Linked DNA regions of Homo sapiens. Changing the gene in region 1 together with any one later gene gives a genetic interaction. Each region holds a gene or a part of one and is shown on either strand. Other genes may lie near its edges.

What was found.
Region 2: changes in POLN (region 1) and CIT together harm fitness less than expected from each alone (positive genetic interaction), as found in Homo sapiens cells (one large-scale study listed by BioGRID).

The regions. Positions count from the first base shown.
Region 1 is NC_000004.12:2,207,436-2,211,261, reverse strand, and holds part of POLN (DNA polymerase nu), read left to right. Parts: intron 1-2,774; coding exon 2,775-3,275; intron 3,276-3,826. UniProt on the Homo sapiens protein: DNA polymerase with very low fidelity that catalyzes considerable misincorporation by inserting dTTP opposite a G template, and dGTP opposite a T template. Is the least accurate of the DNA polymerase A family (i.e. POLG, POLN and POLQ).
Region 2 is NC_000012.12:119,706,075-119,709,900, reverse strand, and holds part of CIT (citron Rho-interacting kinase), read left to right. Parts: intron 1-1,582; coding exon 1,583-1,722; intron 1,723-3,826. UniProt on the Homo sapiens protein: Plays a role in cytokinesis. Required for KIF14 localization to the central spindle and midbody. Putative RHO/RAC effector that binds to the GTP-bound forms of RHO and RAC1. It probably binds p21 with a tighter specificity in vivo.

The DNA.
Region 1 (3,826 bases):
TTATTATTATTTGGAGACGGAGTCTCGCTCTGTCACCTGCACTGGAGTGCAGTGGTGTGATCTCGGCTCACTGCAACCTCCGCCTCCTGGGTTAAGCGATTCTCCTGCCTCAGCCTCTGAGTAGCTGGGATTACAGGTGCCCACCACCACACCCAGCTAATTTTTGTGTTTTTAATAGAGATGGGGTTTCACCATGTTGGCCAGGCTAGTCTCGAACTCCTGACCTCTGGTGATCTGCCTGCCTCAGCCCCCCAAAATGTTGGGATTAAAGGCATGAGCCACCGTGCCTGGACTATTTTATTTATTTATTTATTTATTTATTTATTTATTTATTTATTATGTTTTGAGATGGAGTCTCTGTCACCAAGGCAGGAGTGCAGTGGCGCGATCTCGGCTCACTGCAACCTCCGTCTCCTGGGTTTAAGCGATTCTCCTGCCTCAGCCTCCCAAGCAGCTGGGGTTACAGGTGCATGCCATCATGCCCGGCTAATTTTTTTATTTTTAGTACAGACAGGTTTTCACCATATTGGCCAGGCTGGTCTTGAACTCCTGACCTCGTGATCCATCTGCCCGGGCCTCCCAAAATAGTGGGATTACAGGCGTGAGCCACCATGCCCGGCCTCTTTTTTTTATTATTATTATTATTATTATTATTATTATTATTATTATTATTATTATTTTGAGACTTTCTCACTCTGTCGCACAGGCTGAAGTGCAGTGTGGTGTGACCACGGCTCACTGTAGCCTTGACCTCCTGGGCTCAGGTGATCCTCCCACCTCAGCCTCCTGAGTAGCTGGGACCGTAGGCACATGACACCATGCCCAGCTAATTTTTGTATTCTTTGTAAAAGGACAGGGTTTTGCTATTTTGCCCAGGCTGGTCTTGAACTCCTGGGCTCAAGCAGTCCTCCTGCCTCAGCCTCCCAAAGTGCCAGGATTACAGGTATGAGCCACTGTGCCCAGCCCACAATCATCCCCTTAAAAAAGACAGAGTAAGATCTTCAACAGTTTGAAATTTTATATTTTTCTTTTTCTCCTTGAATTCCTTTTCTTGTTTACTCCTCCATGGAATTTTTAATGTAATTTTATGCTTGAAAGCCTACTCTTGGAAACCATATATTTCTCTGCAATAAAAATACAAGTATAAATTTAAAATTTTCATAACATGTGACCAAGTGTTAAAACATTTTCTTTCAAAATTATTTTAAAGGTAATGTTAATATAGTTATTCAAAGCCATATATATATATATATAAAGTAAATTTATATATATATATAAAGTAAATTTGAAAATAAGCCTTGGCTGGGTATGTTGGCTCACACCTGTAATCCCAGCACTTTGGGAGGCCAAGGCGGGCAGATTGCTTGAGTCCAGGAGTTTGAGACCTGCCTGGGGAACATGGTGAAACCCCATCTCTACTAAAAATAGAAAAATTCGCTGGATATGGTGGTGAACCCCTGTAGTCACAGCTACATGGGAGGCTGAGGTGGGAGGATTACTTGAGCCGGGGACATGGAAGTTGCAGTGAGCTGAGATTGTGCCACTGCACTTCAGCCTGGGCAACAGAACAAGACCCTGTCTCAAAAAAAAAAAAAAAAAAAAAAGGAAAAGGAAAGAAACCTTAAAAATAAAGTGTTATCGTAAATAAGTCCTATAATGAAATGGATAGGATTGCTTTCCCCACCTTGATTAGTTTGTGGATCTATGAATGCATATTGCACATTGATGGAATGAGAGAACTGCTATTGAGCTGGGTTTAATTTTTTTTTTTTTTTTTTTTTCTGAGACGGAGTCTTGCTCTGTCGCCCAAGCTGGAGTGCAATGGCATGATCTCAGCTCACTGCAACCTCCACCTTCCAGGTTCAAGCGATTCTCTGCCTCAGCCTCCTGAGTAGCTGGGATTACAGGCATGCTCCACCATGCCCAACTAATTTTTGTATTCTTAGTAGAGACGAGGTTTCTCCATGTTGGTCAGGATGGTCTCGAACTGTTGACCTTGTGATCCGCCAGCCTCAGCCTCCCAAAGTATTGGGATTACAGGTGTGAGCCACTGCACCTGGCCCAAAAACATTTTTTCAGTAGATAGATTAACATATTGTTAAATAGTTTTGGTGATTTCATTTTTCTCTGCAAATGGCTTTTACTTGGAAGTTGTAAATTATTAATCTTCTCTCTTATGCACATATGCAACATAATCCTATCCATGACATGTCTCATTACATGCACTGATTCCCAGAACAGGGGCCAGTTGGAGGCTTTTGAGCTTTTTTTTCGAGACAGAGTTTCGCTCTTGTCACCCAAGCTGGAGTGCAATGGTGCAATCCCAGCTCACTTCAGCCTCCACCTCCTGAATTCAAGTGATTCTCCTGCCTCAGCCTCCCGAGTAGCTGGAATTACAAGCGCCTGCCACCATGCCAGCTAATTTTTGTATTTTTAGTAAGATGAAGTTTCACCATGTTGGCCAGACTCATCTCGAATTCCTGACCTCAAGTGATCCACCCACCTCGGCCTCCCAAAGTGCTGGGATTACAGGCGTGAGCCACCACGCCTGGCTGGTTTTTGAGCTCTTGATCCAGATATGCATGCCTACCTTGGTTGAGAAAAATCACTGCTCTAGAAGACACTATAGGGTTTCCTTAGAAGGTTTGATCATAGGTAATATGAAGATTGTGTCTCCATATTACCTTAGACAAGTTTTTACCAGAAATTAGTTTAGTTTATAGATCTGTCTTATGAGTCCATATTCTAATGAAATATTTTCCATTTTTCTGTAGGATCTTAAATCTTTAAGAAGTCAGACATCAAGAGGTTCTGCCAAGCTGTCTCCTCAGTCCTTCAGTGTCAGGCTCACAGATCAGCTGTCTGCTGACCAAAAACAGAAGAGCATCAGCTCATTGACTCTTTCAAGTTGTTTAATTCCACAGTATAATCAAGAGGCTTCAGTTCTACAGAAAAAGGGGCATAAAAGAAAGCATTTCCTAATGGAGAATATAAATAATGAAAATAAAGGAAGCATTAATCTTAAAAGAAAACATATTACATATAATAATTTGTCAGAGAAAACAAGTAAACAAATGGCATTGGAAGAAGATACTGATGACGCCGAAGGCTACCTAAATTCTGGGAACTCAGGAGCATTGAAAAAACATTTTTGTGATATTAGGCATTTGGATGATTGGGCAAAAAGCCAGCTGATTGAAATGCTCAAACAGGCAGCAGCCCTGGTGATAACTGTGATGTATACTGATGGTTCCACCCAGCTAGGAGCTGACCAGGTTAGTAAACAGTGATGTTTTTATTTGCTGTCTTGACACCATAAAAGAAGCCCATTTTCTTAGTGTCAGATTTTGATAGGAGAGCTAGAAACAAGATTTTAAGGCTTTCCTTCCCCTCCAGTGGTAAGTGATTGACAATGTATGCTCCCATCAGTTTCTTAGGAAACTGTAAAACTGTTTTCCAGAGTGGGTGTACCATTTTACCTTCCACCAGCAGTGTACTAGGGTTTCAAATTCTCCACCTCCTTGTCAACACATGTTGTTGTCTGTTTTTTTAGCCATTCCAGTGATTCCGAAGTGGTATTTCATAGTGGTTTTAAATTGTATTTCCCTATTATCTAGTGACATTGAGCATCTTTTCATGTGCTTATTGGCCATTCATATATCTTCTTTGATGAAATGTCTGTTCAAATTTTTTGCCCATTTTAAAATTGGGTTATTTGTGTTTTATTCTGGATCTTTATATATTCTGATACAAGTCTCTTATAAGATATATTATTTATACGTCTCCCAATTTCTGTCATATTTTTAAAAAAAATTATTGAGGGTGT
Region 2 (3,826 bases), on another chromosome or scaffold:
TGTGATCTCTCTCAAGTCACCATTTGCTAATATTTTGTCATAATTTTTTTCTCTGTCTTCTTAACACACACACACACACACACACACACACACACACACACACACACACACACTCTCTCTCTCTCTCTCTCTCTCTCTTTCCTGAACCATTTGAGAGTTAGTTGCAGGTATGACGCCAAGTTCTTCAGTATATCAACCTAAGGATTGAAGACATTCTGTCACATAACCAGGGTACAGTTTATTTCTCTCTGTCTGTGTTAGTGACATTATTTTTAAAGGGGAAAAGAGTAATATATCGATTCAGTGTTCAAAACAACAACAGTTAGGTCTTGTTTCAGGCATGGCTGGATCCGGGGACTGACATACTATGGACAAGAACTGGCCTTTCTTAATCTCAGCTCTTTTTCCTCCGTCTCTTCCTCTCTTCCTTATTTTATTCTTTAGAGCAGTTTTAGATTCACAGCAAAATTGAAAGGTACAGAGAGTTCCCATATACCCCCGTTCTCATATATGCATAGCCTCCCCCACTACCAACATCCCCCACCAGAGTGATACGTTCGTTAGAGTCAGTGAACCTACATTGACACATTGACAGTGACACATCATTGTCACCCCAAGTCTACAGTTTACATTATAGAGTTCTTTCTTGGTGGTATACATTCTATGGGTTTTGAAAAACATATAATGACATGTATCCACACATAGAGTATCATATAGAATAGTTTCACATACTATAATTTCTGCATTTAGGAAATTTACCCTTACTATAATACAAGTATCCGCTATGCTGCCCATAATTGGATTTTACCTGTGGCTTCTATAATGTCCCAGAATTTGCATTGCATTTAATCATGTCTCTCTAGTCTCCTTTAATCTGAACGGTTCCTCAGCCTTTTGTCTCTCCTGACATCCACATATTTGGATAGTCCAAGTCTGTTTTTTCATAGAATGCCTCCTCATTCCTCCCTCACACATTCGTTCTTTACTTTGCTGGGGAGCATGTTTGAAAGTACAGTTCACATTCTCCAATTTTATGTCTGCAGAATTCCACCCTCCTCAGAATCTTGACTAAAAGGCCAAATGTTATTGTCTTAGATTTAAATCATGGACTTGGGCCGGGCGTGGTGGCTCACGCCTGTAATCTCAGCACTTTGGGAGGCTGAGGCGGGCAGATCACAAGGTCAGGAGTTTGAGACCAGCCTGACCAACATGGCGAAACCCCATCTCTACTAAAAATACAAAAAAAAATTAGCCAGGCGTGGTAGCATGCACCTGTAATCCCAGCTACTCAGGAGGCTGAGGCAGGAGAATTGCTTGAACCCAGGAGGCAGAGGTTTTAGTGAGCCGAGATTGTACCATTGCACTCCAGTGTGGGCAACAGAGCAAGACTCTGTCTCAAAAATTTAAAAAAAAAAAATAAATAAATCATGGACCTAAAATGTGTTTATATGGATTTGTGGAAAACTCAGATCATCTGTGTGGCCTCTTGTGACTTTTACTTGTGACTAGAACTAGAACCACCATCCCGTACCTTTACTTAACGGCTTCACACTGACGAGAGGTTGTTCCTTTTCCTGTTCAGGAGAAGAGCGGGCACTGTGTCTTGTGGACGTGAAGAAAGTGAAACAGTCCCTGGCCCAGTCCCACCTGCCTGCCCAGCCCGACATCTCACCCAACATTTTTGAAGCTGTCAAGGGCTGCCACTTGTTTGGGGCAGGCAAGGTAAGCTCCCCTCAGAGTCCTAGCTGGTGGAATGTTCTGGAAATTGACACTACCTCTCTTCCCACAGAGCTCGTTGATTTGACCTTCAAGATAGTGTCAACTTAAATAACAAACAGAGAGGGGCTCTCTTGAAAGAAAAGAGATTGATTTGGGAACAGGGCTTTGCAATGGGAATACACGTGCCATTGTAAACTATGTGGGTATCTAGGGAGATAAAGGAAGACAGAGGTTTGTAAGTGAGGATTCCATAGTCTTTTTGAAATAATTATCCTTGGCTTCAAAGATTAATAACAAGACTGACGCTTGTCTAAGGTTGGACAGATAGTCACTGGGCGGATGTCCTTGCAGAAGTATTTTTTGTGTAAGATTGCAATGGCCTGGCCGGGCGCGGTGGCTCATGCCTGTAATCCCAGCACTTTGGGAGGCCGAGGCAGGTGGATCACGAGGTCAAGAGATCAAGACCATCCTGGCCAACATGGTGAAACCCTGTCTCTACTAAAAATACAAAAATTAGCTGGGCACGGTGGCGGGCGCCTGTAATCCCAGCTACTCGGGAGGCTGAGGGAGGAAAATGACTTGAACCCAGGAGGCGGAGGTTGCAGTGAGCCGAGATTGCGCCACCGCACTCCAGCCTGGTGACAGGGAAAAAAAAAACAGATTGCAATGGCCTTTGTGGTTTTCGTCGAGTCTCTTTTTTATCAGGCACACAAGTGTGAGAATCCTCTCTTCATGGCCTCCTCCTGCTCTAATGTCAGCGTTTTGTTAACATTGGCAGCTCCATTTTGATTCTGACAACTTTCACAATTGTACATCCTCAAACTAGGTTAAATTTCTGTTGCCTCCTTTAGGCACGTGAAATAATTTGTGTAGCCATGAAATTTGTACAGGTTTTGAATCTAAAATAAATGTCTGAGAGCAAAATGGGAATAAAATTAACAAAACTAGAAGGATGATCCATAATTTAAAAATAAGTGTGTTTGCATGTGCGTGTGTATGTCTGCTGTGTCTGTGAGAGAGAGATGAACCTTAAAAAAAATCTAATGTGGATCTCCATGTCTGAACTAGATGAAAGTATGTTTCATTACTAGAAATTTAAAAATTCGAATTTATGACATTTACATAACAAAGTTCATGAGAACTCAAGTTAATTCATTTGTAGCTTCTGGCATATTGAAAAGTGGCACATAAAATACCTTTGTTTGCTTCTTTAGTCAAAAAGTCAAAAAATAACAGATGCTGGTGAGGTCGTGGAGAAAAAGGAACACTTATACACTGTTGGTGGGAGTATAAATTAGTTCAACCATTGTGGAAGACAGTGTGGGGATCCTCAAAGACCTAAAAATGGAAATACCATTCAACCCAGCAATCCCATTACTGGGTATATACCCAAAGGAATATAAATCATTCTATTATAAAGTCACATGCATGTGTATGTTCATTGCAGCCTACTCATAATAGCAAAGACATGGAATCCACCTAAATGCCCATCAATGGTAGACTGGATAAAGAAAATGTGGTACATATACACCATGGAATATTATGCAGCTCTAAAAAAGAATGAGATCATGTCCTTTGCAGGAACATGGATGGAGCTGTAGGCCATTATCCTAAGCAAACTAATGCAGGAACAGAAAAACAAATACCACATGTTTTCACTTATAAGTGGGAGCTGAATGATGAGAACACATGGACACATAGAGGGGAACACACACACTGGGGCCCGTCAGAGGGTGGAGGGTGGGAGGAGGGAGGGGATCGGGAAAAATAACTAATGGATACTAGGCTTAATACGCAGGTGATGAAATAACCTGTACAACAAACCCCCATGACATGAGTTTATTGATACAACAAACCTGCACATGTGCCTGTGAACTTAAAAGTTAAAGTAGAAAATAATAAAAAAGAGTGTTTGCGGGTATATATACATGTACATGTATAACTTTAATTAAGTCTGAATCAGGTGTTTATAGACCCCCTGAGGCTACTGGCGTTCTGCTGTTGAAAACCATCGCATTTTGACCCTCAGAAGAGAGCACACTGCACATTTGTTCATTCAGCCGCTCAATCAACATTTTTTTTTTTTTTTTTTGACACAGAGTCTTGC